Regions from separate parts of the Homo sapiens genome. Here all the other regions are linked to region 3. Evidence: fine-mapped expression QTL. A gene starts in region 3. Each other region holds a variant in brackets. All regions are shown on one strand. Distances are from middle to middle. Region 1 overlaps ADAM17 (ADAM metallopeptidase domain 17). Region 2 overlaps CPSF3 (cleavage and polyadenylation specific factor 3). Region 3 holds the start of IAH1 (isoamyl acetate hydrolyzing esterase 1 (putative)). Region 4 has its middle 96 kb from the start of TAF1B.

Evidence for each region. PIP is the estimated chance that this variant, and not a neighbour inherited with it, causes the effect.
Region 1: its variant is the best candidate, but not a certain one, in a credible set for the expression of IAH1 in lymphoblastoid cells (TwinsUK, PIP 0.83).
Region 2: its variant is the best candidate, but not a certain one, in a credible set for the expression of IAH1 in iPS cells (PhLiPS, PIP 0.63).
Region 4: its variant is the best candidate, but not a certain one, in a credible set for the expression of IAH1 in fibroblasts (GTEx, PIP 0.78).

Annotation. Positions count from the first base shown.
Region 1 is chr2:9,503,504-9,511,201 of GRCh38, reverse strand. It overlaps ADAM17 (ADAM metallopeptidase domain 17), which reads left to right. Exons shown (of 19, transcript NM_003183.6): 11 at 1,071-1,223; 12 at 5,837-6,036. It also overlaps a transcript of IAH1 not described here. Among named protein-coding and RNA genes, the nearest start is that of IAH1, 33 kb to the right of the region's middle. The variant AC/C (reference allele first, on the strand shown) is at 4,842.
Region 2 is chr2:9,446,439-9,454,136 of GRCh38, reverse strand. CPSF3 (cleavage and polyadenylation specific factor 3) reads right to left here. Exons shown (of 18, transcript NM_016207.4): 11 at 5,787-5,939; 12 at 1,116-1,224. Among named protein-coding and RNA genes, the nearest start is that of IAH1, 24 kb to the left of the region's middle. The variant C/T (reference allele first, on the strand shown) is at 2,989.
Region 3 is chr2:9,469,949-9,477,646 of GRCh38, reverse strand. IAH1 (isoamyl acetate hydrolyzing esterase 1 (putative)) reads right to left here and starts at 3,096. Exons shown (of 6, transcript NM_001039613.3): 1 at 3,000-3,096; 2 at 1,608-1,660. The coding sequence starts at 3,080. It overlaps CPSF3 (cleavage and polyadenylation specific factor 3), which reads right to left. Exons shown (of 18, transcript NM_016207.4): 17 at 6,208-6,304; 18 at 4,546-4,731. The coding sequence ends at 4,630. RefSeq lists enhancers at 1,477-2,037, 2,518-3,285 and a silencer at 2,555-3,324.
Region 4 is chr2:9,743,854-9,751,551 of GRCh38, reverse strand. No RefSeq gene overlaps it. Among named protein-coding and RNA genes, the nearest start is that of TAF1B, 96 kb to the left of the region's middle. RefSeq lists enhancers at 378-447, 748-827, 2,675-2,754. The variant T/G (reference allele first, on the strand shown) is at 3,772.

The sequences.
Region 1 (7,698 bases), 34 kb before region 3:
GCTGGGATTACAGGTGTGAGCCACTGCGCCTATCCGTACTGTTTTTTTTACCCCTTGCTTTTTTTTTCCTTTCTGCTGAGATGCTTTAGGTTTTAACAGACATGTGATTGGGCCGAGGGGCATGTGAGGAGGCTGGACAATTAACTACAGTTAGCTTATTGCATTTATCAGCACCAGATTGTGTGTGGTTGAAATGGCCAAGGTTTGATGTTTTGTTATGAATGTTCCAGTATATCTTATAAATTACATTTTCTTAAATTGATTTGTTACTACTTACAATAATGTTTGATAGTATTAAATAAAATCCTACTTATTCTGTTAAATTCATATAATTGGTAGAAGAATCATAGTCCGGTTATTACTCTTTTTTGAGACAAAGTCTTACTCTGTCACCCAGGCTGGAGTGCAGTGGTGTGATCATAGATCACTGTAGCCTCAGCCTCCTGGGTTCAGGTGATACTCTCACCTCAGCCTCCCAAGTAGCTGGGACCACAGGTGTGCACCACCATGCCTGGCTAATTTTTTTTTTTTTTTTTTTGAGACGAAGTCTCGCCCTGTCTCCCAGGCTGGAGTGCAATGGCGTGATCTCAGCTCACTGCAACCTCCGCCCCCTGGGTTCAAGCAGTTCTCCTGCCTCAGCCTCCCGAGTAGTTGAGATTACAGGCGCGTGCCTCCATGCCCAGCTAATTTTTGTATTTTTAGTAGAGACAGGGTTTCACCATGTTGGCCAGGCTGGTCTCGAACTCCTGACCTCGTGATCCACCTGCCTCAGCCTCCCAAAGTGCTGGGATTACAGGCGTGAGCCACCATGCCTAGCCCACCTGGTTAATATTTTTTATTATTTTTGTAGAGATAGGGTCTCCCTGTGTTACCCAGGCTGGCCTCAAACTCCTAGAGTAAAGTAATCCTCCCATCTCAGCCTCCTAAAGTGCTGGTATTATAAGCATGCAGTTCTTATTCTCTTGTTGATCTGATTATAAGGCTCTATTTAAGACAGCATAGGCCCAACTGGCAGAAGTAGGTGATGGCTGGATATTGAGAAATAATGTTTTCTTTGCATGATCCTTAAGGAAGCTGACCTGGTTACAACTCATGAATTGGGACATAATTTTGGAGCAGAACATGATCCGGATGGTCTAGCAGAATGTGCCCCGAATGAGGACCAGGGAGGGAAATATGTCATGTATCCCATAGCTGTGAGTGGCGATCACGAGAACAATAAGGTATGTGTGTGTCGAGAATTTTTTATGTGGTTTGGAAAGAGGCTGTGTATAATGATCATAATGAGAGCTCAGAAACGTATTCCATTCCTAGGCGTTTCCCTAGGGATGGATGTGCAAATTACAAAGTACCTTGAAACGTGGTTGTGTGTTTTGGGGTGAAGCACGGTTCATCTAAATCTGGTTAAAACTATCATTTGGACTTTGTTGTCAAGCTTAATGGTGTAGATTTGAGCTCTAGGAAAAATTACTAATAATAATGGCTTTTTTTGGAGTTCTGGATTTCAGGGTCTGGTGGGCTCAGGCTTTATGTTAAAAATTTGTCATTTCATTTACAAGTTGTCATTCATTTTAACTCTACAATTTACATGTACAGTTTACACGTTTTTATTAACTTTTGCAGTTAAACACATAGTTTGCCTGACTACAAGCCTCATGGGAGAAAGGCCCTTCCTTGTCTGTCTTATTCATAGCTCTATCTTATTCATAGCTCTATCTCCAGTGCCTAGTAGGAGTATCTGGCATGTAACAAATATTTGTTGAATAATTAATGGAATCATTTACTATTGGGGGTTTCTGATAGAGAATACTAGTTGATTTGTGATACTGTAAAACACTTTCAGAGACTTTAAGAGTGCCGTGACTAACTCTTAGAGTCTGAACTAAAAGTTGTGTTAATAAATATCTGGTTCTTTCATTTTATTTGAAGTTAAACAGCATAAAGCAGTGTGAGGAAAACAATAGTTGCACTGCTGAGTTAAAGAGGGTCGGTGGGGAGAGCTTAAAGGAGTCTGATTCTAATCACAAAAGATTGTGAAGTATTTGTCCTGACTCCTATTTTGAGCTTGGCTGTGGGCTAATGTGCAAGCCTTCCCTGGACACAGAGGGCAAGATTACTTCTGCTTTTCCCTGGCTCTGACACCCTGCTTTCTGAAATTTCTGCCTCCTGTTCTTTTTGTGATCTTTGATTGTTGCATCTCATTTTTTTTTGGCTTTTTATGTATATTTTCTGCATCTCATTTTCTTTGGCTGTTATGTGTAAACAGTTCCTCTGTTACTTTGCATGTTATGTTTTATTTTTCCTCTGCTTGACAACTTGTGCCAGAGAAACATTTTTCTACCCCTTTTTGTCTACTCTTCCAACCTGTCAAACTGTTGAATTTTCCTTCTCTTTTCATAGTCTCTGCATTTCTAATCATGTTCACTATAGTTCAGTGCTGCCCAATAGAACTTTCTGCTGCGGGGCGGGGGATGTTTTGTGTCTGCTCTGCCCAGTATAGTAGCCACTAGCCCAGTGGAGCAATTGAAATGTGGCTAGAAACTGAGGAACTGAATTGTAAATTCTATTTTATTTAAATTTTTAATAATGTTTGCCTGTGATGGGAGACGGGAATGGGCATTAACTGTAAAAGGACATGAGTGAGATTACTGGAAGGATGGAAATGTCCTAAAATTGACTTATAGCAATGGTTTCAACACTTGGTAAAGTTATTAGAAATCACTGAGTTATATACTTGAAATGGATCAATTTTGTGATATGTGAAATATGTCTTAATAAAGTTGTTAATAAGCCAACAAACAAAAACAGCAGTGTGGGAGCAGAGGAAAAGTAGCGCGGATGTAGAGGAGCTGTGAAGTCATAAGTTGATTATTGTTGAAGCTGGTGAGGGGCACGGGGGCATTCATGATACCATCCTGTCTACTTCATAGATGCTTGAATATTTCTGTAATAGAAACTGTAAAATATGTGACTAGGAACAAAATTTAAGTAGCCACATATGGTTGGTGGCTACCATATTGCATACTGTTTCTCTAAGTAATAGGTCATATGCTTCTTGGTTATGAGGATAGTGTCAGAACTTGGGAGCAAAATGTTTTACTTTGCAGACTGCCTGGGTGGACATGCATGCTGCTGACTCTTCCTGCTGCCAGTTCTGGGGCTCTTCAAAACAGCCCTGTAAGAACTTGCCAGTGAGGCATGGTGGCTCACACCTGTAATCCCAGCACTTTGAGAGGCCGAGGTGGGCAGATCACTTGAGCCTAGGAGTTCAGGATCAGCCTGGACAACATGTGAAACTCCATCTCTACAGAAAATACAAAAATTAGCTGGGCATAGAAGCACATGCTTGTAGTCCCAGCTACTCAGGAGGCTAAGGTAGGAGGAACCCGGGGAGTTCAAGGCGGCAGTGAGCCAAGGTTGTGCTACTACACTCCAGCCTGGATGACAGAGTGAGACTTTATCTCAAAAAAAGGAAAAAGAAAAAAAAGAACTTGCTAATGAGAATGGGGCCTGGGAAGAACTTTTTTTTTCTGGAGCTGCCAGTCTGTATCAATGAAGAACAATTTATTTATTTTGTCCTGAGCACATCATATTTAGTCTGTGTTTTTCTAGTTTGGTTGCCCAAGTAGGAGTCCCCTTGTAAGAAGATAATGTGCATCTTCTATGTTTTATTTATTTATTATTATTTATTATGATTTTTTGAGTGGAGTCTCACTCTGTCGCCCAGGCTGGAGTGCAGTGGTGTGATCTCTGCTCACTGCAACCTCCACCTCCCAGGTTCAAGCGATTCTCCTGCCTTAGCCTCCTGAGTAGCTGGGGTTACAGGTGCATGCCACCACACCTGGCCAATTTTTGTAGTTTTAGTAGGATGGGGTTTCACCATGTTGGCCAGGTTGGTCAACTGACTGGTCAACAAACTCCTGACCTCAGGTGATCCACCTGCCTCGACCTCTCAAAGTGCTGGGATTACAGGCATGAGCTGCTGTGCCCAGCCTATGTTTTAAATGAATTCCTTAATAAAAATATTTTTAACTGATGAAAAGGGCTTACAGGACAAAAATAAAGTAGTTCCTTGACCTAGAAAGACAGAACCCATCACCCTCTACTAGGCAAGCCTATGAAGAGCAGTTTGCCACAGGTGGACTTCTCTGTGGACAGATGACATTAGTGAAAAGGAATGTAGGACCTTTGAGATTGTAACTTCTTAGGAAGGTTTGCTGAACGGAAGAGGAAGTCTTATGACAAGGATGCAAACAGAAGCTGCCAGATCTTCAGGGATGTGTAGGCAGAAAGCCAGAGTTGCGGGTTGGTCCTTTTATCGTTAGTGCTCTCCAGCTGCTTGGGAGTTGTAACTCTGACAAATCAGTGAAGAGGTCTTCTTATCTGTTCACTGTGAATTTTAACTCCATTTTAACCTGATAAAATGGAACCCAGAGATACATGATGTTGATGAATAAACCCACCAAAATGACAACTGCCTGAGGCCCCGATTAGAATAACCAGACCCCTTAGACATCTGTACTGTAACGACAGATTTGGGCCGGGCGCGGTGGCTCACGCCTGTAATCCCAGCACTTTGGAGACCGAGGTGGGCAGATCATGAGGTCAAGAGATCGAGACCATCCTGGTCAACATGGTGAAACCCTGTTTCTACAAAAAATACAAAAATTAGCTGGGCGTGGTGGCATGCACCTGTAGTCCTAGCTACTCAGGAGGCTGAGGCAGAAGAATCACTTGAACCCGGGAGGCGGAGGTTACAATAAGCCAAGATTGTGCCTCTGTAGTCCAGCCTGGTGACAGAGCAAGACTCCATCTAAAAAAAAAAAAAAAAAAAAAAAAAA[AC/C]AGATTTGAAGATGTTTTTTAAAAAGCCAGTTAGTATTTCTGTGTAAGATGAGGTCTTTGCTATCTTTCTGAAAGTAGCTCCTTTGGTGTCTGATTTGGTGGTTACAGGCACCTTTGGAGGGTCTCATACACTTGGCTCTCAGGGGCTTCATGATTGTTGTCTGGGGTGAAAGTGAAGCCATTTTGGCATCTGCAGAGCACTTTGGAGACCCCGACCTAAGAAGTAACTATGCTCAGTTTTCCCTAAGCCTCTTCTTTTTTTGATAACTTCAGGAGGTCTGGAAAATGACCGCAGTTTTAGAGCTCCTGATAAAACCCTCAGCCTTAAAAGGGAGTTATCCTAGTGGTTCTGTACTCCAGGGTGGGAAGGTAGTGTAGAGACTTTTTGAGACACTGGTCTTGCTGGTTGATGAAAATGTTTAGGTAACAATTGGGGATTTAATTTATATAAAATGTACTATTATGCCTATTACTAAGCTCAAATATTTAAACAACTTTAAACTTGGATCATCCATATAAGTAGCCAAAGAAGGAGAAGAAACCCCTTCTCCTGCATTTCTGAATTGTTTTGTCTGGGACAACATTAACCTACAGAGGTTCTTAATTCTTGTCACTGCATGAGTGGCATGCCTGAGGTGAGGAGATTTCAAGTCTGATGGAGCTACGAGCTCTCTGTTGTGCTATTCTGCTTGTCCTTAAGTGGGCTTTGACTGGGATGTTTGGTCTCAGTATTTGTATAGCTTGCTTACCTTCGTAAGAAGAATTATAGATCCTTAACCAAGTTCACATCAGCCATTTAGCATTCTATGGAGGGAGGTTCCCAGTTCCATATCAGTGGCCTTTGGAGGAGACTGTGGTGGCCTTGCCATAACTCCAGGGTGGCTCTGATGGTGGTTTTACATTAAGAGTTTGTCTCTAGAGAAGACACAAACATTGCATGGGAATACATTTTTATGATATTATTTTGGGTCCTTATTGCCTTTTTTCTCTCAAGATGTTTTCAAACTGCAGTAAACAATCAATCTATAAGACCATTGAAAGTAAGGCCCAGGAGTGTTTTCAAGAACGCAGCAATAAAGTTTGTGGGAACTCGAGGGTGGATGAAGGAGAAGAGTGTGATCCTGGCATCATGTATCTGAACAACGACACCTGCTGCAACAGCGACTGCACGTTGAAGGAAGGTGTCCAGTGCAGGTGAGGAGTCTCTCCACAGGGATTTTGGGAAGTTGGTATAACAAGATGTCCAAAATAAGAGAAGACTGAACTTGCAGGGGCTTTAGAATCAACTGAAAGGGGTGTGAGTGTGTTTGTTTACATCTACCTCTTTTGCCCTTCACAGCAAGAAATTGCTTTCTGGGCCTGGCACGGTGGCTCACTCCTGTCATCCCAGCACTCTGGGAGGCTGAGGTGGGAGAAATGCTTGAGAACAGCCTGGGCAACATAGTGAGACACTATCTCTTAAAAAACAAAAAACAAATAAGAAAAGAAGAAGCTTTCTGGAAAGCAGTGTGACATTATGTAACAAAATCCTTGACCTTGCATGCTCCTTGGTTTAGCAGTCCTATAGTTAAAAGAATCTTTTTTTTTTTTTTTTTTCCTGAGACAGAGTCTTGCTCTGTCGCCAGGCTGGAGTGCAGTGGCGCGATCTTGGCTTACTGCAATCTTTGTCTCCCGGGTTCAAGTGATTCCCCTGCCTTAGCCTCCTGAGTAGTGGGACTACAGGCACGCACCACCATGCCCGGCTAATTTTTTGTATTAGTAGAGACGAGGTTTCACTACGGTGGCCAGGATGGTCTCCAACTCCTGACCTTGTGATCCATCCACCTTGGCCTCCCAAAGTGCTGGGATTACAGGTGTGAGGCACCGTGCCTGGCAAAATAATCTTTTTTATTTAATTTAATTTATTTATTTATTTTGAGACGGCGTCTCGCTCTGTTGCCAGGCTGGAGTGCAGTGGCGCGATCTCAGCGCACTGCAATCTCCGCCTCCCAGGTTCAAGCGATTCCCCTGCCTCAGCCTCCCCAATAACTGGGACTACAGGTACGCACCATCACGCCTGGCTGATTTTTTGTATTTTAGTAGAGACGGAGTTTTAGCATGTTGGCCAGGATGGTCTCGATCTCCTGACTTCATGATCTGCCCACCTTGGCCTCCCAAAGTGCTGGGATTACAGAGGGGAGCCACCGTGCCTGGCCTTTATTTTCTTTTTGAGACAGGGTCTCAGTCTGTTGCCCAAGATGGAGTGCAGTGGCATGATCATGGCTCACTGCAGCCTCAACCTCCCAGGCTCAATCAGTCCTTCCACCTCAGCCTCCCGGATAGACAGGACTACAGGTGTGTGCCACCTGGCTAATTTTTTTTGTATTTTTTATAGAGATGGGGTTTTGCCATGTTGCCCAAGCTTGTTGTAAAGTCCTGGGCTCAAGTGATCCACCCTTCTAAGCCTCCTAAAGTGTGGAGATTCTAGGTATGAGGCACCATGCCTGGCCCAAATAATCTTTTATTTCTTTTTTTTTTTTTTTGAGACGGAGTCTTGCTCTGTCGCCCAGGCTGGAGTGCAGTGGCGTGATCTTGGCTCACTGCAACCTCCGCCTCCTGGGTTCAAGCCATTCCCCTGCCTCAGCCTCCCCAGTAGCTGGGATTACAGTGTGCACCACCACGCCCAGCTAATTTTTGTGTTTTTAGTAGAGATGGGGTTTCACCATGTTGGCCAGGCTGGTCTCGAACTCCTGACTTCGTGATCTGCCTGCCTCAGCCTCCCAAAGTGTTGGGATTACAGGCGTGAGCCACTGCTCCTGGCTGCCCAAAGAATCTTTTGGGCAACAGAGATAAGATTTAACAAGGGTATAAGATTTA
Region 2 (7,698 bases), 24 kb after region 3:
TGCCGGGCCACTGCTATTTTTTATTCCTGCATAAAGCACATATAATGTATTAGTACCATGTAAATCACCTTGAGCATAGTATTTACTCGAAAATAATACCATATTCATTGGAAAATGACTTATTGATGGCTCAGTAAATTTATAAAGACAAAGAATGCATATGGAAATGTGTATCAACTATGGGAAAAAAGCAATTTACAAACTTAAATGTAATCTTATTAGTTTTGTGCAATTTTTCCTTTTTTTTGAGATGGAGTCTTGCTGTGTCACTAGGCTGGAATGCAGTGGCATTATCTCAGCTCACTGCAACCTCCACCTCCCACTTTCAAGCAATTCTCCTGCCTCAGCCTCCTGAGTAGCTGGGACCACAGGCACGTGCCACCACATACAGCTAATTTTTGTATTTTTAGTAGAGACGGGGATTCACCATGTTGGTCAGGATGGTCTCGATCTCTTGACCTCGTGATCCACCTGCCTCGGCTTCTCAAAGTGCTGGGATTACAGGCGTGAGCTACTGCACCCTGCCCAATTTTTCATTTTTCTCTATAATGAGCTTCAATGTATACACACACATTAGAGGCATCAGTTATATAGTTGGTGTTACTTATTTGGATGTTGAAAGTTTCAATGTAATGAAAAAATTAGGCTTTACATTAATACTTTTTTGCTTTTAAAGAAATTATACAAGTTTTTGTTCCTACTCCTTTTGGAATGGTGAAGGAATACAAAGGCCCTGCAAGTGATGTAAAGGTCATAAAAAACTGAAATGCTTATGCAAAGGTCATAAAAACCAAACGGCTTCTCTGGGGAATCCAAAGTCACTTCAGAAAATAAAAGCCCACAAGTCTGTTGTAGAGGGTAGAAAACAAGGTGAACTCAGAAATGAACTTATGTTTCCAAAGATGAAGAAAGTGATTTCACCAATAATTTCAATCTTTCAGTAGTTCATGGGAGGTGTTTTTCTCTCCCCACAAAGCTAATTAGCTAACTTGCCTCATTCCTTTTTTATTATTTGTCTATTACATAACATTAGGCCACAAGGTGAAGAGAAGTTTTCATAGATTTTCTTTCAGTGCTAAGGTGAAGTTGGATTTGACATTTAATAGTATACTTACTGGACAGGTCGCAAGGAGAAAGTATGTGATAATTAAAGTTTCTTTTAACAAGTATTCCTGAGACCCGCTGGCCTTGTTCTGGTTTTTTGTCTGCTAAAAATCCCATAACCTGTAAAAAAAAAATACTTGAAGAAAATAGAACCTGGTAAAATGCAGTTTTTCAGGTAATAAAATGCAGTTCATCATAATGAAGACCATAACACCTTTGAACTATGAAAACAACATATGGATTTAACCACGAAAAACATAAAATGTTTGATATCTCTATGATGAGGGCAGTTGCATTGCTACCAATGTCAAAGGGAAGAGTCACAGTGGCAGATCTGGCACAGTTCAGTTCTAATCAGTTCAACAAGCAAGTAACTTACTAGGTGCCGGGGCTTAAGAAAGCTCTCACTAGCTGCACTGCAGTAGGGAAGGCCGGGAAGTCCCCGTGAAACGCACACATGCACTCCCTCAGGCTGGCTGCAAACTCATAACAGAGAGTGAGGCCCACTGATACAAACCTGGGAGGCTGTGGTACACCTAACACTAAAAGCAGCAGCAGCGGCTTTGAATAAAAAGGTCAATAAAAACAGGTTATGGGTGAGCTCATACATTGAGGGAGAAACATTTTTAAGAGAATAAAATAACAACCATTTAAAAACAAAAATACTACAAACGTGAAACCCACTATTCTTTTTTTTTTTTTTTTTTGAGACAGTGTCTCACTGTCGCCAGGCTGGAGTGCAATGGCACAATCTCAGCTCACTGCAACCTCTGCCTCCCGGGTTCAAGCGATTCTCCCACCTCAGCCTCCCAAGTAGCTGGGATTACAGGCACCTACCACCATGCCCGGCTAATTTTTCTATTTTTAGTAGAAATGGGGCTTCACCACATTGGCCAGGCTGGTCTTGAACTCCTGACCTCAGATGATCTGCCCACCTCGGCCTCCCAAAGTGTTGGAATTACATGCGTGAGCCATGACACCCAGCCCCACTATTCATTTTTAAAAAGTTTCATTTATGGCCGGGCATGGTGGCTCACGCCCATAATCCCAGCATTTTGGGAGGCCAAGGCAGGCGGATCATGAGGTCACGAGATTGAGACCATCCTGGCCAATATAATGAAACCCCGTCTCTACTAAAAATACAAAAAACTAGCTGGCCGTGGTGGCGGGCGCCTGTAGTCCCAGCTACTCGGGAGGCTGAGGCAGGAGAATGGCGTGAACCTGGGAGGCGGAGCTTGCAGTGAGCTGAGATCGCGCCACTGCACTCCAGCCTGGAGACAGAGCGAGACTTTTTCTCAAAAAAAAAAAAAAAAAAAGTTTCATTTATTTATTTTTCTGAGACAGTCTTGCTCTGTCACCCAGGCTGGAATGCAGTGGTGCGATCATCGCTCACCATGTGCGCCACCATGCCTGGCTTATTTTTGTATTTTTTGTAGAGATGGAGTTTCACTATGTTGCCCATGCTGATCTTCAATTCCTGAGCTTAAGGGATCTGCCTGCTATGGCCTCCCAAGGTGCTGGGATTACAGGCGAGAGCCACCAAGCCTGGCTGAAACCCAGTATTCTTAAATATAACTTCTCTCAACTGCAAATAAATGAGCTCAAAGGAATAAAGGTAGTGTGTTCCATACTTGTTTGCCTTTAAGCAAGTAAGGGCAAACAGCAACCAGGCAGTGCTATATTTGTTCTCATAATTATAAACACAGAGGGTTGTATTTCACAGTATTTCCTAGGGTTATTTTCTCCTTAATTGTAGGTAGCTTTCAGAAAAGAACCTTTGCTCCTAGGAGACTAATTTTAATACAGTGATGTACTTGAGAGAGAAAAATAACTAAAGGTAATGATTTTAAATCATTAAAATTATGGGTGAGAAACAGAACACTC[C/T]GATAAGAAACCCAACTTTTCCTGAACTCAGTTCAATTCATCTTCTAAACTGTCTGACTGCAAAACTTTTTTTTTCTCCCCACATATCCACCACCAGCAGAGTATGTGAAATACAGTTCTAGATTCTCAACTGAGTATATTTTTCTACAGGTATAAGAAAAATACTATTAAATCGGCCCCTGAAAAGTTTTGTGGACAGTAAGACTCAGGAGTAACTACGACTATTTACAACAAAAACCTCATACCCTAAGTTTTGCTAATTTCTTTTTTTCCTCCAATTCACCTTCAAGAAAGGATATTCATTAGCGTCTGCAGGTTTGGCTCATTATGTATTAAAAGTGTGTCGTAAAGTTGCTTTTTTAAGACGGAGTCTTGCTCTGTTGCTCAGGCTGGAGTGCAGTGGCATGATCTCGGCTCACTGCAACCTCCGCCTCCCAGGTTCAAGCGATTCTCCTGCCTCAGCCTCCCGAGTGGCTGGGACTGCAGTTGCGCACAACCACGACTGGCTAATTTTCGTATCTTTAGTAGAGACAGGGTTTCTCCATGTTGGCCAGGCTGGTCTCGAACTCCTGATCTCAGATGATTTGTCCGCCTCAGCCTCCCAAAGTCCTGGGATTATGGGCGTGAGCCACAGCACCTGGCCCATATGTTGATACTTAAACCTTCAACTAAATCATTAAAAGTTTGAGCCTCAGACTGGGCACGGTGGGTCACGCCTGTAATCCCAGCACTTTGGGAGGCCAAGGCACGTGGATCATTTGAGGTCAGGAGTTCGAGACCAGCCTGGCCAATGTGGTGAAACACTGTCTCTACTAAAAATACAAAAAAAATTAGCCGGGCGTGGTGGTGGGCACCTGTGATCCCAGCTAATCAGGAGGCTGAGGTAGGAGAATTCCATGAACCTGGGAGGCGGAGGTTGCAGTGAGCCGAGATGGCACCATTGCACTCCAGCCTGGGCGACAGAGCAAGACTCCTTCTAAAAAAAAAAAAAAAAAAAAAAATTTGTGCCTGTAGTCCTAGCTACTTGGGAGGCTGAGAGGGGAGGATCAGCTGAGCCTAGGGAGGTCGAGGCTGCAGTAAGTCATGAATGCACCACTGCACTCCAGCCTCGGCAACAGAGTGTGACCCCATCTCAAAACAAAAAAACAGAACATGGGAGTTGCACATATCTCTTCAACATAATGATTTCAATTCCTTTTTAAAAATTTAAAATTATATATGTAATTTTTAAAAAGTTTCTCTTAGAAGTATTTCTAAACGAGTTGTGATCAACAGAAGTAAAGATGCAGACTTCTGACAGCATCCCTCTAAAAAGCCAGCTCAGGCTTTCCTTAACTATTTCAACTTTAAATTCTGAAAATGTTACATTTCACTCTCAAAAATGATTAATTCTTTTTTTATTTTTTTGAGACAAGGTCTTGCTCTGTCACCCAGGCTGGAGTGCCGTGACAGGACAATGGCTCACTGTAGCCTCAACCTCTGGAGCTCAAGCCATCCTCCCACCTCAGCCTCCCAGGTAGTTGGGACTACAGGAGCATGCCACTGCACCCAGCTAATTTTTGTATTTTTCGTAGAGACTGGGTTTCACCACGTTGCCGAGCCTGGTCTTGAACTCCTGAGCTAAAGCGATTCGCCTGACTTGGCCTCCCAAAGTCCTGGGATTACAGGAGTGAGCCACCGTGCCCAGCCTTGATTACTTCTTTTTTGTTTGTTTGTTTGTTTTGAGACACAGTCTCACTCTGTCACTCAGGCTGGAGTGCATTGGCGCGATCGCAGCTCACCGCAACCTCCATCTCTCAGGTTCGATCTCAGCTCACTACAACCTCCACCTCCTGGGTTCAAGGGATTCTCCCGCCTCAACCTCCCAAGTAGCTGGGATTACAGGCACCTGCGACCACACCCAGCTAATTTTTTTATTTTATTTTTATTTTTGGTAGAGCCGGGGTTTTACCATGTTGGCCAGGTTGGTCTCCAACTCCTGACCTCAAGTGATCCACACACCTTGGCCTCCCAAAGTGCTGGGATTATAGGCAGGAACCACCGTGTCCGGCCGATTAATTTTTAAAGAGAAAATGTTTCATATATTCCATCATATCTACACAAACATATATGTTTAGAGATATGAGCCTATCTTCAGATTCTCAGGGAGAATGACAAGAGGTGGACACAAGGCTATACTGGCTACAGTAACAAACAGTAACAAACAGTTCTTTACCCTCAGATGTGGGTAGGAAAAGCAAGTGGGGATATGGATTAAAGAGCTATGAGATTCAGCTGCATTAAGATCTAATCTAGGCCGGGCACGGTGGCTCACGCCTGTAATCCCAGCACTTTGGGAGGCGGAGGTGGGTGGATCACGTGGTCAAGAGATCAAGACCATCCTGGCCAACGTGGTGAAACCCCATCTCTACTAAAGATGCAAACATTAGCTGGGCGTGGTGGCGCGCACCTGTAATCCCAGCTACTCAGGAGGCTGAGGCAGGAGAATCGCTGGAACCCAGGAGGCGGAGGTTGCAGTGAGCCGAGATCGCACCATTGCACTCCAGCCTGGTGACAGAGCGAGACTCCGTCTCACACACACACACACAAAAAATCTAATCTAGCTGAACATTTTCCACCTGAAGAAATGAATGCACAGAACCAAAAGAAGCCAAAAAGGATAAGGATAAAATTCCTGTAGTGTAACAAGTAGACAGAAATAAGCATATTCTTTTGACTAAAGATCTATTTTCTTAAGAAGTACAGTCTTTCCTGAAGAAAAAACATGGATTGGACAGACAGGAACCATAACCTTTTACCTTGGCTAGTTTTTCTCCTCTGAAGTTTAAGGTCACTGCTTCTGTATTCCGAGGATTATGAACCTCTATGTGAACTTCATCGTTATCTTCATATTCTCGAATCAGTGCTGCTTTCAATCTGGCCATTTCATTCTGTTCTCCATGGACTAAAATCTACATAGAATAAATGTTAAAAGAATATATGGAAACATCATTCAGCTTAATCATGGTCCTTAAGTTGAATTAAATATATGAAATATATTTAATATATGAAATAGAGACATACTTGGAAGTTATGAAACTTTACTACTTTTAAGGACCTCCAGCCGATTCAACTTGTATACACATATTCATTCTGTTTGATCCTTATGTGGTACTATTTGAACAAAGAGTAAAGAAACTTCTTTTCTACTCCAGTCTTTGCCACTAATGAGATACACGCCTTTTCCATGTTTCACTGCTTCTATGTTCACAGTTGTAAAGGGCTGACTTCTGTAGTCTCTTCTAGTTTTAAATGCCTATGACTCTTGTACAAAACTATTGCTACCCTACTGTCTTAGAAAACACCCATGGTTCTCTTTTTTCTCTTTTTGTGAGATGGAGTCTTGCTCTGTCGCCCAGGCTGGAGGGTAGCAGTGGTGTGATCTCAGCTCACTGCAGCCTCTACCTCCTGAGTTCAAGCGATTCTCCTGCCTGAGCCTCCCGAGTAGCTGGCACTATAGGTACACGCCACTATGCCTGGCTAATTTTTTGTATTTTTAGTAGAGACGGGGTTTTACCATGTTGGTCAGGCTGGTCTCGAACTCTTGACACCCACCTTGGCCTCCCAAAGTGCTGGGATTACAGGCTTGAGCCACTGTGCCTGGCCTACCTCATATATTGATATATTTTTGGAGACAGGGTCTCACTCTGTTGCGCAGGCTGGAGTCCAGTGATGTGATCATGGCTCACTGCAGCCTCAACCTCCAGGGATCAAGCAATCCTCCTGCCTCAGCCTCCCACGTAGCTGGGACTACAGGCACACGCCACCATGCCCGGCTAATATTTGTATTTTTTGTAGAGACACGGTCTCACATATTGCCCAAGGTGGTCTTGAACTCCTGGGCTCAAGTGATCTGCCCATCTTGGCCTCCCAAAATGCTAGGATTATAGGCGTGAGCCACTGTACCTATCCTAATAAAATATTTCAGAACCAAATGGAACATTTTATTACTTTATATATTTCTTTATTTAAAGAGAGTCTTGCTCTGTTGCCCAGGTTGGAGTGCAGTGGCATAATCTTGGCTCACCGTGGCCTCAATCTCCCAGGCTTATACAATCCTCCCACCTTAGCCACCCAGGTAGCTGGGACTACAGGCATGAGCCACCATGCTTGGCTAGTTTTATTTTATTCTTGTAGAGACAAGGTCTCACTATGTTGTCTAGGCTGGTCTCAAACTTCTGGGCAGTCTTTCCACCTCAGCCTTGCAGAGTGGTACGATTACAGGCATGAGCCACTGTGCTCAGCCCCAAATGGAATATTTTAGAGGGTATTTACAACAACAGCATTAGCTACCAGTCCCTTTCCATTCACTTTTGTAACTTCTATCTTACAAGACAGATTGTTCTTTTTTTTTTGAGACAGTCTTACTCTGCCACCCAGGCTGGAGTGCAGTGTCGTGATCTTGGCTCACTGCAGCCTCTGCCTCGAGGGTTCAAGGGATTCTCATGCCTCAGCCTCCAAGTAGCTGGGATACAGGTGTGAACCACCATGCCTACCTAATTTTTATACTTTTTTTTTTTTTTTTTTTTGAGACCGAGTCTCGCTCCGTCGCCCAGGCTAGAGTCTAGTGGCGTGATCTCGGCTCACTGCAAGCTCCGCCTCCCAGGTTCACGCCATTCTCCTGCCTCGGCCTCCCGAGTAGCTGGGACTACAGGCACCTGCCACCACACC
Region 3 (7,698 bases):
GTTTCTCGGCTCCCTGTGTGACTAGGCGTGACCCTGGGCACGCTGTGCTCCTTCCTCACATGTAAAGTGAGGAGAATCCCAGTTAAGGATTCGCATCAGGCAGTAGGTTTGAAACCCCTCAGAGAATACCAGTCACATAAGAGGGACTCTTTTTTTCTTAGTCTTGGTAAAATGATATGATTTGGGATTTGCTTCAGAATAATCCATAGGAGGGATGGATGGGCTCATTTCACTCTTTGCTTCTGTAGATATTTAAAGTTGTCCATAAAGTTTTCTTAAAATGACGCCTGGGGTTCAACTTATGATTAGTAAATCAATATGGTTCATTTTGCTGTATTCACATTCCCATACATGCATAACCAAGCAGAGAAGCTGGGGCACCCGCGGAGAACTGCAGGCCACAGCGTCAGGCAGCGGCTCCAAAGCAGCACAAGGGGACACTTTCTGACACTGCTCAAAGTTCTCAGGTGGCATTTATAAACTGCAGAACCACCACCGAAACTCAGCCTTATTTCTAAGAGATTGTTTGTGTGTGTAATGATTATAAAATGCGACTAGCCATTTTACAGAGTGAAATCACAATACTTTAATGAAGTGCTGGGCTGGGTGTGGTAGCGAGTGCCTGTTGGTCCCAGCTACTCAGGAGGCTGAGGTGATGATGCCTTCAGCCCCAGAGGTGGAGGCTGCAGTGAGCCCTGATCACACTGCTGCACTCAAGCCTGTGTGACAGAGTTGTCAGGCCTCTGAGCCCAAGCTAAGCCGTCATAACCTGTTACCTGCACGTATACATCCAGGTGGCCTGGAGCAACTGAAGAACCACAAAAGGAGTGAAACAGCCAGTTCCTGCCTTAACTGATGACATTCCACCATTGTGATTTGTTCCTGCCCCACCCTAACTAATCAATCGACCTTGTGGCATTCCTCCCCTGGACAATGAGTCTCAGGAGCTCCCCACAGAGCACCTTGTGACCCCCTTCCCCTGCTAACAATAGATAACCACCTTTAACTGTAATTTTCCACTACCTACCCAAATCCTATAGTACTGCCCTACCCATCTCCCTTTGCTCTTTTCAGACTCAGCCCACTTGCACCCAAGTGAATAAACAGCCTTGTTGCTCACACAAAGCCTGTTTGGTGGTCTCTTCACGTGGACGCGCCTAACAAGAGACCCTGTCGCAAAACAAAAACCACCAAAAACCAAAACAAAGTGCGGTAGAATTGTGACAAGGTGAGTCTTAAGTCATGGCAGCACTTCAAAAAAAGGCAAAGTAGCTTCCTACCAGTGTGGTGTAGCAGTGAAACTGCAAGTTCTGCAGTCATAGCAGCTGGACTTGGATCTGTCTGCCCCTGACTAGGGAAGAGGCCTTGGCCATTTCCTTGATTTGTCTGAGTCTACCCAGCCATCAGTGCTCAACCCTAAAATATCTAATTGGTCAGACTGAGTGAAGAGTAAATGTTTTCTGTTCCTTCTCCTATATACTGATTAGGGGAGGCAAGCAAAATTAATAAAGGAGGAATGTTCTGTTCAGAACTATCCTTCATCCATAAGACGGATCCCTAAGACATTTTCCATCCATAAGAACTCAAGTATCGGAAACCATTCTCACCTGACCAGCCTGTCAGCCAGCGATGCTCCCCATCCACCCTGCTGGAAGGAAAACTGGAGGAAGAAAAGCCCATTATTACTACTAATGACTGTAACCGGGCATCTCAGCGAGGGCAGTTCTGATTGGCAACTTCTGTTTTCTCGGCGCTCCCTTCTTGGCTTTGATTGCTTCACTCCAGGAGGTCATTTTGGGGATTACAGGTAAGTACACCTGGCAGCACTTTAGCAGAGGGGGATTTTTCTCTATCAAAAGCTAAACAGCCTGTATTCCCAGCACTTTGGGAGGCCAAGGCGGGCGGATCACATGAGGTCTCGAGTTCGAGACCAGCCTGGTCAACATGGCGAAACCCCGTCTCTACTAAAATTACAAAAATTAGCCCGGTGTGGTGGCGCACGTCTATAATCCCAGCTACTCGGGAGGCTGAGGCAGGAGAAACGCTTGAATCCGGGAGGCGGAGCTTGCAGTGAGCCGAGATCGCGCTACTGCACTCCAGTCTGGGCGACAGAGCGAGACTCCGTCTCAAAAAAAGAAAAAAAGAAAAAAAAAAAAAAGCTAAACAGAAATCTAAGTTCAGGAAATAAAGTCAAAGGTCAGTGAGGAAATGAAGGCCACACCGCCTCACTGCTTTGCTGGTTACCGAGCTGAGGGTGAACACTTTTTCATACACATTCCCATGGAATTCGGCAGCTCTGACTGCCCCATATGCCTAAACATAATGTTACCAGTTACTGGCGTATACACAAAAGCCTGGTGAAGCAAGTCCTGTCTGAGAAGAGGACACACACAGGAATGGAATTTCTACTCCCTCCCCGAAGTAAGAACCTGCATTTAGAAGACCGTTCCCTTCATGGGAGGTGAGATGATCTTGGATGAACGGATGGTCCTTTTCTACCTAATTCCTGAAGGCGTTTTACTTCCAAGGTCAACCCCTAACGGCCCCACCTGTGCCCGCAGGGAATGGGGCGAGAGAGCTCCTGGCGCCTCTGCCCGGAGCTGGCCGCGGGGCCTCCTGGGACACAGCGCGCGGTCGCCCGCGGCCGCTAACCCGGACCCGGAGGGGAAAGGCCGCTGCCCAGGAGGGCGCTGAGGGGAAGACCGCGCATCTCGACCCGGGTGGGAGGCGGCGCGGGGCGGGCAGCGCGGCCGGGTCCCCTCGCGTCTGTGCCTGGAGCCCGGGCTCTCGCGGACGCCGTCGTGACCTCCGGGACGCCGCGGGCCCGGAAGGCGCAGCCACTGGGGGACCCGCCACTCCTCCGGTGTCTCCACGGGCGTGGCCAGGCCTCCGGCCCAGCCGTCTCGGGCGCCGAAGAGGACGGCGAGGAGCCTCGGCCTGCTCGGCAGCGACCCCGCAGGGAGGCCGGGGCGGGAGGCCGAGCGTCGGGGCGGCCGTACCTGGGTGATGGAGTCCCCGAAGAGCAACAAGCGAGGCCAGAGCAGGGCACTCCCGCAGCCCGCGGCCTCGCACAGCGCCATGGAGCAGCCGGGCGGGGCGGGGCGGGGCCGCCAGCCACGAGAGGCGCCTGCGCAGTGGCCGCCCGTGGGTTGCGGGAGCCGGGCTCGTGGGCACCCACGCAGTCACTTTGGTGACGCGCGAAGGTCGTTGCCCCTTGGAGTCCGTTTGCAAGAAGCTCGGCCTCCGCGCTTGCTCACCCACAGCAAGGCTGCCCCCAGGGAGTCCGGAGCCCGCGTCCCGCTGCGTGGTTCCCGGAAGAAAAGCGGTTGGGGGCCCTTCTAAGCCCACCCCGCGCTCCGCGGGCGCAGGTGCGTTCGGCAAAGGGCAGGAGTGTGACCTCAGGACGCGCGGCGGGAAGCACAGCTGGCTCTCGGTGGGGCGGAGGGCTGCTCCAGGCCCCCCTGGAAGAGGTCGTGGGATGCGCGCGCGGCCTCCTGCGCCCAGCGTCACTCTGGAGGGCCTGTAACACCCACGAGGACGCAGGCACTGCGGAAACCCTGGCAGTACCTCGTGGTTCTGCGAATGACAAGGGAAAGCAGCTGCACCTTCAGTGCGCGCGCAGCCGGCCGCTTTTCTTTTTCCCGCCGTGGGGTGGATGCGCAGATGCAGAACCCCGCGGACACGGAGCACTGACTAACTTCCAAGGGATTCACCTGTTAAAACGTGGTTGTAATGCAACGTTCTTACCTCAACTGTGCAATGAAGTTCGGCAGCCGAGCTAAAAACGAACGGGTGGGAAGGATGCCTTGAAATCACGGAGCTGTAGATGAGTAACAGAAGGGCCAGGGGCGCCGGCGCAGAGGCCGACCCCGCTCCCTGGGGCGGGGCGATGGGCGTAGAGCATGACTTTCTTTAGGTTGCTCGTCCCAAGCTCGCTTGGATCACCTGGGGGAGCTTTACAACTAAGATCCAACCTAGGGCCCTCATTCCAGCCGGACTAACTCACCTCCTGGTGGCAGGACTTGGGCACAGGTGCACTTGTGATGCACCCCACGTGATTCCCACGGGTAGCCCAGATTGAGAGCCCCTGCTAGAGCAAGCAAAGGTGCCTGGACTTCATCTTTATCACAAGGACTTCATTAAGGCCTTCAAGCAGCAGAGGCTTGAGGCCAGGTCTGTTCCAGGAATCAGCTATAGGGGAGGAGATGGAGGTGGTTGCAGGAATTCAGAGGGGAGAGTAGACTTGGACTCGAACAGCAGCAGTGGAGATGAAGACAGAAAAGATTCAAGTGCAACTTAGAATCCTTATTATTAACTCAAATTGGTTACCCCAGAGGAGAGGGTAACCAGCAGCGGTTGCTATCGGCAGATCTTGATGGTTTCAATGGGAGCTGCACATACATGCCTGGAAGAAGAATCCAAAATTCTAAAATAATGGGCAGTTGATCTAGTAGTTAGTTCTAGAATAATGGACAAATTAATTAGCAATTTAGCAGTATTCAGGCTGTTGAAATAAAGGCCATTTGACATTAAAAGTAAACAGGCTCCCCCAGAGAAACGAATGCATTTTATTTTAGGTAACAAAAGTAGAGTCAAGTATTTTTTCAAAGTTCATATACAGGCACAGTCTCAGTGAACTGGCGTCAGGGCCTCGTACAGTCTCTGTGCAGCCAGCTCCACCATTTCTCGGAGGGATTCATCGTCTTCACTTCCCTCTTCACATTCTACAGTCTGAAAGTGAGGCACAAACAAGACTGTTAGAATTAAGTCTATAATGATTATATAGAAGATAAATGAATACTCTTTAAAAAAACCATCATCTCATAAAAAATTAGCCAGCTGTGGTGGCGTGTGCCTGTGGTCCCAGATAAGAGTCTGAGGTGGGAGGATCACTGAGCCGGGAAGGTTGAGGCTGCAGTGAGCTGTGACTGCACCACTGCACTCCAGCCTGGGCGGCACTGCGAGACCGGGTCTCAAACTAAAAAAAAGAACAATCATCTGTGTGTGCAGAGGTCATGGTGGGACTGATTACCATGAAACAGAACGGCCGCCCTACACACTTGTGGGCGTGCAGTGCTTCCTGACAGCAGCACGGTCCTAATTAGTGATGACTTGAGGCTGGGGTGAAAGACTGGGGAAAGTCTAGTAAACTACATTTACATCAAAGCCCACAGTTTGATCTAGTAAATGATACTCCAGGGAAGTTCATCTATGCCACACAAATTACTTGGCAAGGAATGGATGTGGCTATCTACTCAACATTTGGTACTGAATTTGACTGAAACTCACTAATAATCTTCTAGTTGCTTCTTTTTTTTTTTTTTTTTGAGACAGAATCTCGCTCTGTCGCCCAGGCTGGAGTGCAGTGATGTGATCTCAGCTCACTGCAACCTCTGTCTCTTGGGTTAAGGTGATTCCTGGGTTCTCCTGCCTTAGCCTCCCAAGTAGCTGGGATTACAGGCACACCACCACGCCTGGGTAATTTTTGTATTTTTAGTAGAGATGGGGTTTCATCATGTTGGCCAGGCTGGTCTCAAACTCTTGACCTCAGATGATCCACCCACCTTGACCTCCCAAAGTGTTGGGATTACAGGCGTGAACCACCACGCCTGGCCTCTAGTTCTTTTTTTTTTTTTTTTTGGAGACAGAGTCTCGCTCTATCATCCAGGCTGGAGTGCAGTAATGTGATCTTGGCTCACTGCAACCTCTGCCTCCCTGTTTCAAGCAATTCTCCTGCCTCAGCCTCCTGAGTAGCTGGGACTACAGGCAGCTGCCGCCATTCCCGGCTAATTTTTTTTGTATTTTTTAGTAGAGATGGGGTTTAACTGTGTTGCCCGGGCTGGTTTTGAACTGTTTGGAAAATCCACTTGGATCTTGCTGGTGCAAACAGAAGAGCGGCTTCTTTAAAAAATGGAGAGTCAACTAGATGCCAAACTAGAGAAGGGATGAGGTGAACTAAGCTGTATTATGGAAGAGGACAGCAATGGAGTGGCATACACGCGAACCTTGTACTATGCAGTAACCCGGAAAAACACGGAAAACTTCAACCATAATAATATAAAAAGAACAATGTGAAAAAAATGTTGGAAACACTGGAAGCAAATGCCAATATGCAACAGTAGACTGTTGAGTGTGAGAGCACAGATTATTTATGCCTTCACTTTATTTCCCAAATGTCTTGAAACGTAGGAAAGAGCAGCTACATACCCGTGTCTCCAAGTTAAGGTTGGCAGTTTTCCCGTCCACTGTGACGCTAAGAATAGAGTCATCCTTTACACTTACACAGTCTTCTCCAAATATGTCCCTGAAAATAAGCAGAAATGCAGGATTAGTGAAAATGCCCGGCTTTATATATTTGAGGAAAAAATAAAACTGAAGATAGGTCCTAGTTCTAAAGCAGAATACTGTATTTACTTTTTTTCTTTTTTTTTTTGAGATGGAGTCTTGCTCTGTGGCCCAGGCTGGAGCGCAGTGGCACAATCTTGGCTCACTACAACCTCCGCCTCCCGGATTCAAGTGATTCTCCTGCCTCAGCCTCCCTAGTAGCTGGGATTACAGGTGTGCACCACCACAGCCAGCTAATTTTTGTATTTTTAGTAGAGTCAGGGTTTCACCATGTTGGCCAGGCTGGTCTTGAACTCCTAGCCTCAAGTGATCCACCTGCCTTGGCCTCCCAAAGTGTTGGGATTACAGGCAGGAGTCACCATGCCCAGCCTGTATTTACTTTTGAGACAAGCTTCTTATTTGCCTTGATACAGCTTATTAAGTTTATAAAACAGGGAAAATACACAGCTTTATTCAAGAATGATCTATTCAGCAGGCATCATGCTAGGTGGTTTATATACATTATCTTAACCTATAATTTTAGTAAGGATCCCCTTTTACATGTGAAGAAAACAAGACACAGAAGTTAAGTGATTTGCTTAAAGCCTCACAGCTAGTAAACAGCTGAGCCGGCATTCAAATCCAGGTATCTAGGTTTAAATGGCTCCCAAGCCCACTAGCTGTGCACTCCTACTTTAATTAAACTTGGTATTTATTGAGCATCTTCTGTGTGGCAGATTCCTTCTGTGCTAGTAGCTGGGGATAAAGAAGGCACTAAGACATTGCCTCTGTCATCGAGAGAAACAGTTTTGATGGTTAATTTCAACATCGTCCCCATTGGTACAGAGGTGTTAGGAAACAGCAGTCCACCAGCAGGCTGAATGCAGGTAAGAAAGGCAGGCAGTGACTCTAAACAACCCATGGACCATGGTCAGCCTAGGACAGTTAAGCACTGACAACACTGTATTAAGCGGGGGAAGTGGGGAGTGGGAATCAACTCCTTGCATCTTCAGGCAGTTACTGCTCATCATATGTGTGAATAAACTTAGGTGGGACCCTAGCACAAAGGAAAAGATTATATTTTATTTTATTTATTTATTTTGAGACGGAGTCTTGCTTGTTGCCCAGGCTGGAGTGCAGTGTCCCGATCTCGGCCCACTGCAACCTCTGCCTCCTGGTTTAAGCAATTCTCCTCCCTCAGCCTCCTGAGTAGTTGGGATTACAAGCACCCACCACCACACCTGGCTCATTTTTGTATTTTTAGTAGGGGTATTTTGGATGGGGTTTTGCCATGTTGGCCAGGCTGGTCTCGAACCCCTAACCTCAAGTGATCCACCTGCCTTGGCTTCCCAAAGTGCTGGGATTACAGGTGTG
Region 4 (7,698 bases), 270 kb before region 3:
GGGTTGAAGGGAGAGACGGGAATGTTGCTGGGGTGCAGCTCTCCAGGGACAGAGTGTGGACGGAGAAGAGCCAAAGAGACAGCTCCAATGTCACAGCCTCAGAAAGAGCGGACACCAGGCCAGTGGGCCTCACAGGAGCCAGGGGAGACACTTGCAGGAGCAGGAGCAGGAGCGGTCTGCTGGGTCAGATGCGGGGATGTCTGAGTAGCATGCGGACAGTGAGCTGGGTGAGGAAGGAGGGAAAAGCTAAGCCCCTTCCCAGCTGCAGGCTTCCTACCTGCAGCAAGCTCAAGACAGCAGAGGCAAGAAGACTTCATTTTCACTCAAATTCAGGACGGGACATTTAACCTTCCTGCAGTGAGACAGTTTTTATTAACTAAGAGCAACCAGAAACGTAATAGGATTGCCTGAGTTTGCAGCAGTGGCCGAGAAGAGGTGATTCCCCTGACTAAATCAGGACAGAGGAAGGAGTTGCTTTGTGATTTGATCCTGAAAGTGCTGCTAATTCAACGCATTGGCCACATTTGGTCTGTAGGCACAAGGCCAGGGTTGAGAGAGCTGCTGATGGGGGACCTGTGATGGCCTGGAGCCCAGCCCAGCCTGTCAGCTGTAGGTGGGACTTCCCAGACCCGTCCAACCCAAAGCTCCACCACAGAGAGGAGACAGCCATGAACTTGAGTACAGGTAAAACAAAGCAGAATTAGTGAGTGCTACCATCAACCTACATGCTGAACACTGGGGAGAATAGAGGAGGAAGCCACGAGTCTGACAGGGGTGAGGAAGGGTGGAAACCAAGGAGGGCTGCTCTGAGGAGGTGACACTTAAACTGGGCCTTGAAGGGAGAATTTCAACAAGCAGAGAAAGGAAATCATTTTTTGTGAGTTTTTAGGGTACTCCCTCCAGTAACTCCCCTCTCCCCCAACTCAAATGGACTATTGTGATATGGCCAGAACAAAGCTAGGCACTTTCTTATCTAGATTTTTCCATTTCACATGCAAAAGAGAAAAAAAAAATCACCTCTGATTTTTCTCCTTGGGATGTTTCATTCTAAAAAACTAATTCATTCAACATTTATTTATTAAGCACCAACTACATACCAGGCACGATTAGCATTCTGTGTTTTAACTCACTTATCCTCCGTAGTCCATGGAGGTGCGTACCAGTATTATCCCCATTTTACAGATGAAGCAACTGATGGACAGAGAGATTAAGTAACTTGCCCAAAGTCTCACAGCAAGTACCTGCAGAGCTGGGATTTGGGCCCAACTCTAATAGTTGGGGTCCAGAGTCTGAGAGCTGCACCATTACTGTCCGTGGCCCTTTCTTTCATGGAAAACTCAGGGCGATTGGCCATTTGCAAAGGAGGAAGAAAATGCACCTGCCGCTTCTTTGATCATCTTCCATGAACAGGTGCAATACTTCCCCGGGTCTGAGGCCAGTTCCTCAGTTCATTCATCCCACCTGTTCCATGAACAGGTGCAATACTTCCCCAGTTCATTCCATGCCACCACAACTGGCTTCATGGCTCTAGTTTGTGGTCAAAGCATCTGCTCCCACCACTTCTGGGGCTAAACTGGGAAAAGCGAAAGCCAATGTAGCAGGCCTGGGGCAAGGGCTGATCTCTCCTGGAAACCAGGAGACAGCTTGGAGAGCTTGGGCTCCAGACAGGTATCTATCACAGGCCAGTTGGGCTTCCCTTGCAGAACCTATGGGAACCTGCAGGATGAATTAGCTAAAACTCCCCGTGGCCACTCCAATGCTAAAAGCCATATAGCTGGTCCTCTCAGCCTCCCGTGACTTCTCTCTTGTCCACATGCCCCGCTGGGTCCTCCCAGCCACCCGTGCCCTGCCATGCAATCAGGCGTCCAGCTCCTGCTGACCTTCCTGTCTCCCCTCCATCACCTTATTTCAGGTCCTCAGCATTTCTCACCCAAGCAGTTGCAATAACTTCCTAACCAGTTTCCCAGTCTCCAGGCCTGCCACCCCCTAACTCCCAATTCATTTCTTAAAGTGAAGCTTTATTGTACAGCTTCCCCTCTGAAGAAACTTTGGTGGCTCCCCAATATCCTACTGAAATAAGTATAAACTGCTCAACTTGGCAATCAAGCTCGCGTTCATCCATCCCAGGCCACCAGCCCCCTCTCTTACTGATCCCCTCCACCTCCTCTGATCTGTCCTTACCCATCCCCTTGCTGCCCCTACCCCCCACGATCAGCCCCACAGCTTTCTCTCCACCTCTCCATGTCTGAATCTGTTATGATCCAGCTCAAGAAAGACTTCTTGGACCATCCTAGATGAAAGCAATCACTTGCTTTGAATTTCTGAGGCTCCTTTCATCAGGTATATATTGCCTTGTTTGATTCTCCAGACACCCATGAGTTGCCTAATGCCACCCTGGTGTTCTTCTCCCTGCCCTACATAGGCTGGGCACAGAGGCAGTGAGAACAGCATGACACAGGCTTTGGGACCACCAAGCTCTAGCTCTGTCATTTGCAAACAGCTTTACCTGGAGTAAGTCTTGAAATACCTCCTGTAACATTTCCTCTTCTGTTAAGTAGGAATAGAAAACTACTTCCCACGCTCTACGAGAATTAAATGGGGGCAATGCATGTAAATGCTCAACAAATGACTAGGACGAGAAGGGAAGGCCCAAGGCAGATAACCTCCCCTCTGTTCTTTCACATTCGCATCTATAGTTTCACAGGGTTTTTTTCCTCCTAGTAAAATTAGATCCTGACACATATTCAAGGAACACTCTGCAGCTGTTTCTCCAAGAACAGAGAGCCTGGGGATGCCCCATCTTCAGCCCATCAAGCCCCAAGTGCTTAGTCACCTGCTTAGCCCAGACATGAGGGATGCCATAAAGAAAAGCAAACAATAACACACCCGTGACAAAGCCATTTACTAAATTAGTAGGGGCAGGGAGCATACAACCCTGAAAGAGCGATTAAACCTTGCATTTGCTCCAAGCCTATTCCTTTTCCACATCTGCATTTGCCAGGTCATCTCTTCCTGACAGTCTTATCCTTTTTGTGCCATGGACCCCTTTGGTAGTTTGGTGGCTGCCAATAATGAATCAAATAAAATAATACATAGAATTACTGTCTTAATCTGTATTCTGTTGCTACAACAGAATATCACAGACTGGGTAATTTGTTTTTTTAAAGAAAGGTTATTTAGCTCACCGTTCTGGAGGCTAGGAAGTCCAAGAACATGGCACCAGCCCTTGGCGAGGGCCTTTGTGCTGCATGACGATGCATCCCAGCAAAGGACATGGTGACAGAGCAAGAGCAAGATAGCCAGAGAGCTCCATTTTATAACAAAATCACTCCTGTGATAATGAACCTACTCCTATGATAGTGACATTGATCCATTCATAAAGGCAAAGCCCTCATGAATCCATTAATCCATTCAAGAGGGCAAAGGGATTAGGTTTCTAAAGCCCTAACTTCTGGGGGACACATTCAAAACATAGCAATTATGAAATAAACCAGCTACTATATGTTGAAAGACAGTGGCTCATGCCCTTAATCCCAGCACTTTGGGAACCTGAGGCGAGAGGATCACTTAAGCCCAAGAATTCAAGGTTGCAGTGAGCTGTGATCACACTGCACTCCAGCTGGCAACAAAGTGAGACCCTGTCTCCGTACATACATACATACATACATACATAAAATATATTTCTGAAAAGCTGAGGAGTCTGTGAGAATTGAAATTAAGTAGGCAGGGTTTATCCTCAAGCCTGATGTGACTTCTGTCTGAGTTGTAGAA[T/G]AAGGGGCCACGTTTAAAACTAAGTAAGAACTAACAGGCAGCTTCATAAACATTTCAGAATCCCGTGACCCATGAAGTGAAGTGAATTGACTCTCTGGGGGTAGGGGAGGGGTCTCTGAAGATGCTGTGACCATCAGCCACATCTTCCCCAGGGCTGGGGGCATGAGCAGCCTTGGCCAAGCGGGGGGACATCCCAGTGCCAGGCCCTGGGATAGAGACACAAACCCACTGTGACACCTTTCACTCCAACAGACCTGCTGCATTCTGTGCTGTGCAGGGCCAGCTTCATGCCCATGTGACCTGCAGAGTTGTACAGAGCCCCGCACTTCCAAGGCTCCTGTAATTAGTTTAATGTTGTCATCATGTTAAAAAAATTTTTTTTATTTTTTGAGATGGGGTCTTTCCGTCGCCCAGGCTGGAGTGCAGTGGTGCAATCATGGCTCACTGCAGCCTCCACCTCCCCAGCTCAAGTAACCCTCCCTCCTCAGCCTCCCAAGTAGCTGGGACTACAGGTACATGCCAACACACCCAGCTAATTTTTAAATTTTTTGTTGAAATGGAGTCTCACTCACTACATCGCCCAGGCTGGTCTCAAACTCCTGGACTCAAGTGATCCTCCCACCTTAGCCTCCCAAAGCACTGAGATTACAGGCATGAGCCACTGAGCCCTGCCAAAATTCCTAATAATTTTTGAACAAGGGGCCACACATTTCATTTGGCACTGGGCCTCCCAAACTGTGTAGCCTGGTCCTGATGCCATGACAGGAGGTTTGCCTTGTGGGTCACAGGAGGAACACTCTGCCTTCCAGAACCCCTGAGATCAGGGGGGGCAGGTTAACATGAGGACGGGTCCTTTGGATAACTGGCTGAGCCTCCCCAGGTGAGAGTTCCACACCAAGGACTTAGGACTAGGCCTAGGACTAAAATGGTAATTAGTACGAGAGCTGTGCTTATTATTAATTTGAGGTTGTTTGTTTGGAAAGCTCATGGTAAAGGCAACAGTAGGGCGATGTCTAGATCAAAGAAGAGGAATGTAATGGCCACCAGGAAAAACTTTATAGAAAAGGGGGGTTGCCTGGATTATCTGGCACTGCCCCAGGAAAAGCTTGGGAGCAGATGGCTCTCCCACCCCCACTCAGAGTAGACGACAACTCCTTGGGCTGCCCAGACTGAGGGAAATGTCACTTAAGAGTGGCCAGGCCTCTCTGCTTGGATTCTATGCTCCAGGGGGGCGCCCAGTGATCCCATTTCCCGGCCCTCACAGCCTGCTCTTGGAGTGTGGACTCAACTCAGTAAATACAGCCACAGTGATGGGATGTCACTTCTGAGGTTAGGTTATAAAGGACACAGCAGCTTCTGTTTTAGTGGCACTGTCACTTGCTCATTACCAAATCACTTACTCTGGGGAGTCAACTGCCCTGGAGACACCTATGTGGAGTCTGGAGGTGGCTGGGGGTCCTTGGGGGCCCTAGCCAACAGCCATCCTGGAACTGAGGACACCAGCCACCAGCCATGGGAGTTCCCCATCTTAGAAATGGATCCTCCGGCCTTCCGGGATTTCAATGATGCAGATCTAGCCAACGACTTGACTGCAGCCTCGCAGGAGAGTCCGAGCCAGAGGTACCAGCTAAGCTGGGCTTCCGACCCTCAGAAATTGTGTAAGATCATAAAGCTGTTGTAAGCTGCTAGGTTTTGGGGTACTCACTATGGGTCCATAGGTAATGCATCAGCCTCCAATTTCTCACTGCCCTACCCCCACCCCCAGCGGTCCTGAGCCCCTAGAAGAAGAGCCGGGACGTGATCCACGTGGTCACTCCAGCATGGCCAAGCACAGGCAAGCATCTGCAGACTTCTGGAAGGAATTGCGGCGAAGCATCTTCGAAGGATGTTAGAGGCCCCCAGGTGAAGATAGAACCAGAGGATAGGATTTGCTTCAGTAAAGGTGATTGGGATCATTGTTTTCTTCTTCAGGTGCTCTGGCCAGGGAAAAGATGAAATTCACACCTGTTATATTCACTTATCAGCTTAATTCTCTCCAGGTAAATATTATGAAGTTGTAATATGATCCTGTGGCCCCTGTTCAAGAATTTCGGCTCATGCCTGTAATCTCAACACTTTGGAAGGCCAAGGTGGCAGGATCACTTGAACGAGACTCTGTCACTATAAAAAAATTTTTAAATTAGGTGGGTGTGATGGTGTGCAGCTATAGTCCCAGCTACTCTGGAGGCTGAGGTGGGAGGATTGCTTGAGCCCAGGAGATCAAGGCTTATCTAATATTTACAAAGCACCTACTAAGTACCATGCACCTAATCCTTATAAAAGCCCTGGGAGGTGAAATTGCCAATCTCATTTTTGGATGAAGAAACTGAAGTCAGAGGACAAGGAAGTTGCCAGGGTTGCAAAGCTAGTGAGTGGTCCAAAAGGAATGCACACCCAATGTGCCCTGATTCCCAGTTCTAGGCCTTTCCATGGCACTGTGCTTCTTCACACAGTGGGTGTGGGGAGGAAAGGGGATGGCGGTAACAGGGGGAGGCACCACTTCTCTAAGGTGGTGGGAAGGGAGAGACATTTCTGGATTCATGAGGACACCTGTTGGCTTTCTCCTTGGACCCTTTCCCCTCCTGCTGCAAAATAGACAGGACACTCACAGGGGACCAAGAGTCAGGGCAGCCACCAGCGCCAATGGTGCTGCCTGCAGAAGGGGCTGAGCTGGGCTAAAGGCCCCACTGAGGTGGCCCAGGGAGTGACCTTGAAGATAGAAGTCGGCAGAAGAGGGGGATGGGGAGGACTGTGGTGGGGAAAAGACAGACCTTTGTTCTCAGGTGCTCCAGGAGGGATAACAGGACTGTGAGGTGCGGTGACAGGAAGGCAGGGTCGCAGGCAGGGTCACAGGCAGCATAGCTGTCGGCTTTCCAAAAATCAGAGCTGCCTGTAGACAGGCTCCCCTGGAGGCGGGAGCTCCTGTGGCAGGTGTGGACTCCAGCTTGCACAGCCTCCTGCCGGGATTGCAGAGGGGTCACCCTCCAGTGGGACAGGCTTCCAACATTCTTCAGACACTTTCTTAACATTTTATGAAACCATTTTATTACAAAGCCTCACATGATCATGATTAGGCTTTTAGTATCCGTAATTGAGAAAATGTGCAAGAATGAAAAGCCACTATAAATTTCACATTGCCTTTCCAAGGATATATTTTATTGAATATGACAGCATCTGCAGATGTGTTTAAAATGGTCATAAGTACAGGGCAAGGCTTGGACTGGGGCCAATCCTCCGTCGGGCAGAGAATCATGGGGCAAAGGACCTGGTGGTGAACACCTCCCCCACTAGACCAGTAGCCGGGTGGCTTGGGGCTGCATCTCTGCTGAGTCCCTGAGCAGATCAAGACCGGCTTCAGTTCCTGTCCCGGTGCCAGAGGACCCCTCCTACAGCAGCCTGCCCCAGGAGAAGAGTTCTTCCTGCAGGAAGTTCATGGTTCCCAGGCAACCCTCAACAAAGCCGGATCCCTGCAGATGACCCCTCTCAGCCTGCCCACCCAGAAAGGGAGCCCACAGCCCCTGGACTGGCCACCCCCACCATCGTCCGACCTGCTGAGGGATGTGATGAGAACAACTGTTTTACACTGAGGCCTTGTCACATGCCAGGTGCCTTGTCAAGCTCTTTGCATGCAGTAGCTGATTTACACCTCCATTACCTGGGTAGGATTATTCACCTCATTCTACCGACATGGAAACTGAGGCACAGAGAGGCTACGTTACCTGCCCAAGGGAATATAACTAATAAATAGCAAAGCTAAGGTTTTCATTCAGACACAGACAACTCTGGAGCCTGTGCTGTTCATCTCTAGGCAGGAATAAACTAAGAATTTGGGGCGTTTTATGCTGCAAGTATTGAAAAGCCTAAAACTCCCCAACCCAGTGGACATTC